Regions from separate parts of the Homo sapiens genome. Here region 2 is linked to region 1. The links come from fine-mapping of genetic effects on gene expression. A gene starts in region 1. The other region holds a variant in brackets. All regions are shown on one strand. Distances are from middle to middle.

Evidence for each region. PIP is the estimated chance that this variant, and not a neighbour inherited with it, causes the effect.
Region 2: its variant is the best candidate, but not a certain one, in a credible set for the expression of NEK1 in whole blood (INTERVAL, PIP 0.85).

Annotation. Positions count from the first base shown.
Region 1 is chr4:169,610,307-169,614,705 of GRCh38, forward strand. It overlaps NEK1 (NIMA related kinase 1), which reads right to left and starts at 2,277. Exons shown (of 36, transcript NM_001199397.3): 1 at 1,916-2,277; 2 at 1,714-1,837. RefSeq lists enhancers at 1,750-1,869, 2,290-2,349.
Region 2 is chr4:169,287,157-169,291,555 of GRCh38, forward strand. All of the region lies in intron 2 of LOC105377529 (a long non-coding RNA gene), which reads right to left. Among named protein-coding and RNA genes, the nearest start is that of SH3RF1, 18 kb to the left of the region's middle. RefSeq lists a silencer at 3,183-3,347. The variant C/T (reference allele first, on the strand shown) is at 2,104.

The DNA.
Region 1 (4,399 bases):
TTTCTTTCTTTTTTTCTTTTTTCTTTGAGACAAGCCTCACTCAGTCGCCCAGGCTACAGTGCAGTGGCAGTATCTCGGCTCACTGCAACCTCTGCCTCCCGGGTTCAAGCAATTATCCTGTGTTAGCCTTCCAAGTAGCTGGGATTACAGGCACGCACCACCACGCCCGTCTAATTTTTTGTATTTTTGGTAGATATGGGTTCGCCAGGTCAGCCAGGCTTGTCTCAACCTCCTGACCTCAAGTGATCCACCCACCGTGGCCTCCCAAACTGCTGGGATTACAGGTAAGAGCCACAGCACCCAGCCACTAAGAATTTCTTTAAAGCCACAAATAAGCAATTTTGGACATAATAAAATTTTGTGAGCCACATATAAACAATTTTAGAGTATATGAATGGAAAAGCTCAACTTCGATCAATCTGGAACACATACTTAGGTTAAGCATTAAGCTCTCATCAGGTGTTTCAGATATTCTATAGACAGGCTGTCTTGAAGGGAAACATGGTAAAGGCATGGCAACAGGTTTCAAGAAGTCTTTTGGCGCTGTATGCAGCTACAATCCATACATACAGTTCTGCCTAAGCAATAAATACCATCTTGAATAGTGGGAGGGGATCCATTTATCTTCTCAGGAAAAAAGTTCTTTATCTTCCTTTATTCGAAAAAGCAGAAAGCAAAAATGGAATTTCTATTAGACTTTTTTCAAAATATTTTTTCTTCTCTGTAAGTCTATTCAGACAATATTCAACAGATTTTGTAGTAGAAACTACCAACAGGTAAATAAAGAATGTACATTCGTGAAAAGGTGTCATGTTCATGACTTAGACTAGAAGGCAGGAGATTAGACAGGGCAAAATTTACTTGGAATACAATGTCAATGTACTATTCACACGACCTCAAAAGAACTTCTGTGGTCAAGTCCGACGACCTTTATTAAATTCCTGACAGTGACTTTTAACGTGAAAAAAACCTGTTTTCCCACAAAATAGGCTCCTTACATTTCACCTAGAACAATGGATATTTTAAGTGAAACAGATCTGTAGAACCTCTAAAACCAGACAAATGTAAACTAGAAACAAGGAGTTACTTCTCTCCAAATTTGGCTCCCCTCCATCAGCTCTACAATACTGCTGCATCATAAAAAAAGGTCATTAACTTAGATTGGATGCCACTTTTAATCCTTCATAAACATTTCTAATGAAACATACCAAGGCAATAAAAAATATTTCTGCTTCCTAAAGCAGATCTTAAAGAACAAAAAATAGGCCTGCAAAAAAAGTTATGATAAACTCTTAAAGTAGTACAACAATTAATGCCTTACATATGGAAACTGTGTCAAATCATGGAAACAGAAATCTAAGATTACAGGGTAACCAGCTAACTACTACTCATATTCGCTTCCTAATTAAAATTTATCAGTAATTTAAGATTGGACACAACATAAGCAATGCAAATGCTTGCTTATCCATACTAAGATTCCTATTATTTTAATCCCATTACCGCTCTAGTTTTTAAAAATACCGTAATGTCCAAGAATCGCTTTGTTAATACAGAGTGTCTTAGAGAATTAACATTTAAATGAGATTAAGGTATTTTCCCTGCAAACACTTAAGGTATCTGTGTAATCTCAATATAAGCAGTTCTACGCACATCTCATTTCCAGGATGATTTTTACCATTTTGCATGTCATTCCTTCCCCCAAGTGGAACTCACCTCAGTGACACAGGACGTTAGTAGGAATAACGGTGATGACTAATAAGCATCAGTCTAGGTGTGGCAGTCTTCCTACGGGGCTTAATAAAGCAGAGGTACCATCCCGCATTTTGAAAATGACATCCTGAAAGAGAAACCAAGACTGTCTAACCAGCAGCAGCTCACAGTCCAGACTGAAAGGGGGCACTGAGACTCTCCACACCTGACACTCGTCTTCAGTTGATACCACGGGTTTGACTCCGTCCTGTCTCGGGCGACGCCCGTAAGACAGGTCGACACTACCCCGACGAAACAAACAAACTGGTTTCTGAGCCCCGTAGAAACGGCGGGGTGCAGCAGGGGGAGTGCCTCCGTTACCGCCTCTCCAACTTCACAGAGGTCGTTGCTAGTGGCCACGGCGGGGTGGGGACGGGCGGCGTTCGGGACTGGGAAGCTACTTGACTGCCACGTGCTCCTGCCTCGCAACAGCGGCTCTAGATTCCGAGTTATGGGGACAACTGCTCGAGAGGCCAGGGTAGGGTAAGGACTCCGCAACCTAGGGTCCCAAAACCCTGGAGCGAATGCGGACTAAGGGAGAGCGGCCGGCGCGTCACCGGCGCTGGCGTGTGACGTCAGCGCGTGGAAGGCGGCACGCAGCGGAGGCGGCTGGGAAGGAGCAGTGAGGCTGGGCTAGAACCGTAGGGTCGGGCGGGGTGCTGTGCGAAGGGGCGGGCGGGGTGCTGTGCGAAGGGACGGGAGGGGCGGGCTCTGCAGGCGGGAAGACAGAAAGGACGAGACGGGAGAGATGAAAAGGATGGAGAGAGTGTAAAGCTGTTAAGAGTCATGCAGAGATGCGGGAGAGAACTCACTAGTTGAAACCAATTTGGAATATAAAGCATATAAAATTTTCCCACAGCTACTACACCGAGAAAGGGACTTTTTTATTTTACATGAAAGCGCACTACTTAGGGATGCCACATTTTAAAGAGCAATTTTGCTTTAAAAAGCAAGTCTTTTCCTATTATATCTTGGATGGTTGAAACAGAAGAATGTTTAAGTCTTGAGATATTTTTAAAAAGCTGTATGGGGTTTTCTACACCTTTACATCTAATGTATGTATAAATTACTTGTCTGTATGTTGAAGGGTTTGGAAATGTACAGCAGTCTAAGTACATTTTTTCACTGCAGGACTGGCGAAGGTAGGAAGAGATTCCCCTAAAACTATAATAAGGGATATCATCTGGCGTCATCCTGAGTGGCCCTACTCAGGGCAACTTTATTCCTAGGGACATTGAAAGATTTTGGCGGCTTTGCCAGACGATGGCGCTGCAAGTCACCCAACCTGAAAAGCTGGAGAGTTTGTTTTATCTCCTCTTCAATCGCCATACAGCTACAAAAGACTTATTTTCCTCATTCTTTCTACTTCTAGTCTACACTCCTGTGGGCCCTCCTACCCCCAGTTAGTAGGAATTATCATGTCTGAATGCACAATTGTAGTTCTACCCACATCCTTTTGTACATCAAAGTGAAGTGAAATGTTGCCAATTACTAATCTAAGCAAATTCTTTTTGCTGCTTACAGGAAGAATGGCTAGTCAGCTAACCTCCTTAGATAATTCTTTAGGCTCATGTCATAAACTATTGGTAGGACTACAAACTGCTACAGTCTTTCTAGAAGGTATGCTAGCAGTATGCATATCCTTTGACTCAGCAATTTAACTTCTGGAACAAGTGAGCAATGATTTATATACAAGGATAACCGTTATTGTTTATAACCAGAAAAACTAGAAATACTGTAAATGTATAACAATAAAGAATTGATTAAATTATAATATATCCAAACAATGAAATACTCTAAAGCCATTTAAAAGAGTAATCAAGATCTACTTTATTGACATACAAAGATACCATTGATATATTGATGAGTAAATAAAGCAGGTTACCTAAGAAGATTACCTGATTTCCCTTTCTGGTTTATATACCCCTGTACAATTGATTTTTTTTTTTATTTTTAAACAAGAGTGCTTTGGGGTTTCTTTTTCTTTAAATATTTTATTGGACTTTTCTTTCAAACAAAAAAGTTTTTGCTTCTTGCAACAAGCCAGTAACACAAGTACACAAAGATAAAGCCTATCGTCTCCTTCCCAGAGCTCTTCTGTGCTGTCCTCCACGAAACCAATGTTAACAGTTAATTAATATCATCTACATTTTTCTCTAAGTTCCTAAAAACATAAGCATGCATTTTTATATTTTATATATTAGTCTTAGTCTTTTATTTACTTATTTATTTTGGAGACAGGGTCTCATTCTGTTTCCCAAGCTGGAGTGCAGTGGCGCGATCTTAGCTCCCTGCAACCTCCGCCTTCCAGGCTCAAGTGATTCTCCCACTTCAGCCTCCCGAGCAGCTGGGACCATGGGTGCGTGCCATCACACCTGGCTAATTTCGGTATTTTTTTTGTAGAGATAGGGTTTTTGCCATGTTGCCCAGGCTTCTTGTGTGTGTGTTTTGTAGAGATGGGTTCTACCATGTTGCTCAGGCTGGTTTTGAACTCCTGAGCTCAAGTAATTCTGCCTGCTTTGGCCTCCCAAAGTGCTGGGATTACAGGCGTGAGCCACTGTGCCTAGCCGGGACTATAGTATACATATTATTTTGCAACGTACATTTTTAAATTTAATAGTATATGAACATCTATGCGGATATCAACTAA
Region 2 (4,399 bases), 320 kb before region 1:
CAGAAGCACACATTGCATTTCTTTCTCATGTGTCTTTAATTTTCTTCAACTTGGAAATTATTTCTCATTCTTGAATTCTTTTTAAGTTTATAGGCCAGATATATTGTAGAATTTGGGTTTGAAAATATTCCTCATTATTAGATTCAAATTATGCACCTTTGGAAAAAAATTCAATGAAGCAAGAAGCAACATTGTATTCCTCGTGTCAGATGGCACATGCCTTGGATTTGTTGTCCAATTTGATAGCTTATTTAAGATGATGTCTTTTCTTCTTCTCCAGCATGAATTTATGTTTTCTTTCTCTAGTATTCTTTCAGGAAGTACTTTGAAACTAAGTAAATACTCTCTTATCAAACTTTTAATTTATTCATATATTTATATGTACCAATATGTACTCATGGTTCTTAATTTCCTTCAAAGGACTATATGTGTTACTATCATTAATTCATAATTTTGATGCTTAATTTCTCCCAGTCCAGTGAAGGAAAATGATAGCCAGAAACACAGGTGTAACAACAGGCTTATTGACTTAGCCGGGCTTAATAGGGTGTAGTCAGGGAACAGCTTTGTTTTCTTCCACTCTTGCCTCAAGCATTTTTTGTCAGAAACATTTTCCTTGCTCTTGGTGACTTTTCCGATAGATCCCATGAGTTTTTCAGTCACTTCAGATTCTAACAACACTACCATTTTTAGATTATGTAGTTCCATCCAACCTAAAGTAAAACCTCAGTATCTCATCCAATTCAAAGTTTATCCTCTCTCCCTAGCTCAGGCCTGATTCACTACCTTCCATGCCACTGGCTAGGAGGGGTCTGATTGCTCCTGTTACCTACCTGCCCCCCTGTATTAGTCTGTTTTCACACTGCTATAAAGATACTACCCGAGACTGGGTAATTTATAAAGGAAGGAAGTTTAATTGACTCACAGTTCTGCATGGCTGGGGAGGCCTCAGGAAACTTATAATCATGGTGGAAGGGGAAGCAGACACCTTCTTCACAAGGTGGCAGGAGAAAGCGAAGGGGGAAGAGCCCCTTGTAAAACCACCAGATCACATGAGAACTCACTCACTATCATGAGAACAGCATGGGGAAACTGCCCCCCGATCCAGTCACCTCCCTCCCTCTACACATGGGGATTACAAATTAGAGATGAGATTTGGGTTGGGACACAGAGCCAAACCATATCACCCCCACAAGGCTCCTCCAGAGTTGGGGTGGGCAGTGTGGGGGCGGGGAAGAAGGCACGCCAGCAGCACTGTTTGCACTTTTCTCTTGCCTGTCATATGACCTCTCTCACATCACATTTTCAAATTCTAGTTCTTTCTTGGTGTGCGGCAGTTGAGCCTTTGGAGATTTCCCTGAAATTTTATCTCTTTGGGGGAGTCTTACATAAGAATCAGCTTTTAGATTTATTTCCCCTTTATACTTTGTTTTCTGTTCATTAATTTTCATCTTTATTCTCTCTTCCAAATTTATGTTTTGTTTATTTTGGTGTTCTTGTTCTAAATTTTTTAACTGGACCTTAAATATTTTTTAACTTTTTTTCCTTTTTTTTTGAGACAGAGTCTCACTCTGTCACCCAGGCTGGAGTGCAGTGGCACGATCTCGACTCACCGCAACCTCTGACTCCTGGTTCAACCATCATGCCTGGCTAATTTTTGTATTTGTTGAAGAGGCAGGGTTTCACCATACTGGCCAAGCTGGTCTCAAACTCCTGACCTCAAGTGATCTGCCTGCCTTGGCCTCCCGAAGTGCTGGGATTACAGGGGTGAGCCACTGTGCCTGGCCTAAATTTTTTCCTTAATAATAAAATATTTAAGGCTATGAATTCCCATAGGAATAATTTGAACTATGTTGTGTATATTTTGGTATGAACTTTTTCCTCATTGCTTTGTATATGGTTTGTAATTTCAGTTTTGTTTACATTTTGATAAGAGTTATTTAGAATATTGTTTCTTTCTTCTTTTTTTTTTTGAGACAGAGTCTCGCTCTGTCACCCAGGTTGGAGTACAGTGGCACAATCTCAGCTCACTGCAACCTCTGCCTCCTGGGTTCCAGCTATTCTCATGCCTCAGCCTCCCAAGTAGCTGGGACTGCAAGCACG[C/T]ACCACCACACACAGCTAATTTTTTTTTTCTTTTTTTCTTTCTGTATTAGTAAAGATGGGGTTTCACTATGTTGCCCAGGCTGGTCTCAAACTCCTGGCCTCAAGTGATCCATCCACCTCAGCCTCCCAAAGTGCTGGGATAATAGGAGTGAGCCACCGCACCTGGCCTAGAATATTTTTTCTTAATTTTCAAGTAATTAGAGGGTTTTTTGAGGGGTATCCCTTTTCATTACTTACTCCTTTTATTTTCTTTTTTGGATTATAATCAGGGAATGTGGCCTATAAAATCTCTACTCCTGTATATTGACTTAGATATCCTTTGGAAACAAAAACAAGATTAACTTTTGTAAATGTTCCATTAAAACACAAAAGAAATATAGTTATGAAATGTAACATTCCATACATGTTTTAGGTCAAATTTGTTGTTTGTTTTATTCTATTCTTCTGTTTCTATTTATTTTGTCTGTTAGATATATGTGAGTCTGAAAAAGGTGTGTTAAAATCTCCTAACATAAAGATTATGCTTTATATGTTTAGCTACTACAATGATTGGTGAACATGACTTATGATTGTTATACCTCTGTTATCAATTTGCCTTTTGTCATTACATATTAATATGCATGCTGTTTGGACCGCTAATAGGACCGCTAGACTTGACTTCTTTTGATTTATATTTATCTGGTGGATCTTTTTTTTTTTTTGAGATGGAGTCTCGCTCTGTTGCCCAGGCTGGAGTGCAGTGGCACGATTTCAGCTCACTGCAACGTCTGCCTTCAAGCGATTCTCCTGCTTCAGCCTCCCAAGGAGCTGGGATTACAGGTGCCTGCACCACACCTGTATAATTTTTTTGTATTTTTAGTAGAGAAGGGGTTTCACCATGTTGGCCAGGCTGGTTTCGAACTCCTAACCTCAGGTGATCCACCCGCCTTGGCCTCCCAAAGTGCTAGGATTACAGGCGTGAGCCACCGTGCCCGGCAGTATCTTTTTACATATCCTCTGAAGTTTAACTTTTCTTTCTCACTTTGTTTAAAGTGAGTTTCTTTTGTTTGTTTGTTTGTTTGTTTGAGGCGGAGTCTCCCTCTATCACCCAGGCTGGAGTGCAATGACATGATCTGGGCTCACTGCAACCTCTGCCTCCTGGGTCCAAGTGATTCTCCTGCCTCAGCCTCCTGAGTAGCTGGGATTACAGGCATGTGCCACCACGCCCAGCTAATTTTTGTATTTTTAGTAGAGACAGGGTTTTGCCATGTTGGCCAGGCTGGTCTTGAACTCCTGATCTCCAGTGATCCGCCCGCCTCAGCCTCCCAAAATGCTACGATTACAGGTGTGAGCCACAGTGCCTGGCCTAACGTGGGTTTCTTAAGTAATATGTGTTTGGGTTTTGATTTTTAAATCACACCGTCAGTTGCCACTAGTTATTATCCTACTACTTTCTGATATTAAAGTTGTAGTTAGAAATCTAAAGCCAGTCTTAATCTTTTTCTATGTAAACAATTTGTTCTTTCTATCTAGAAGACTGTAGAACTTTGTCATTACCCTTGGAATTACAACACAGTAATGGAATCTCTAGTGTGTTCCGGTTTTCATCCCCTGTTCCTTGAAACTCAAAGAATTCTGAGGATGAAACTCTTTCTTTAGCTCTGTAAAATTTTCTTCACCTGTTTGTTTAAATATTGTCTCTCCTCCTTCGATTGCTTTACTCTTCTGAAATTCCTATTTATTTACAAGTTACAACTTCTAGATCCATCTTCTGGTTCCTTTATATTTGCTTTTTTGATGTCTGACTTTAAATGTTTGCTTTTTTGAGAGATTTCTTTCCCTTGTACTTCCAGACCTCTGTTCACTTCTCAATAGTTACCATACACTTTTTCAGTACATCTGCTATATTTTTAAACTTAAAAAATCATGTTCTTGAGTTCCAGTTTAACGCTGTAATTGAAGCTCCTCAATTGCACTAATTACTTTTTCTGTTCAAGTTGCCATGCCCTTTTTCAGCAGTTCTATTTTGCTGGCAACCGCCATTTCTGGATGCTCTGCTCACTCTTCCCCATTCTGGCTTTGTTGTTCCTTTGCCTATGTTATTCACCTGGGGCCAGGTCTTCAGCAGCAGCTATCTCTTGAGTACAGGAGGCTCCATGGTCTCTGATCCTGTAGACAGACAAGTCCTCAGCTGGAAAATGCTTATCTTATCTTCTCTGCTCCCCAGTTTCCTTAGCTACAAAGGTTAATTTTCTCTTAGTTGTAAAGATACAAAGTCTTTTTTTTTTGTTTAAATTTTAAAAATAATTGAGATGGA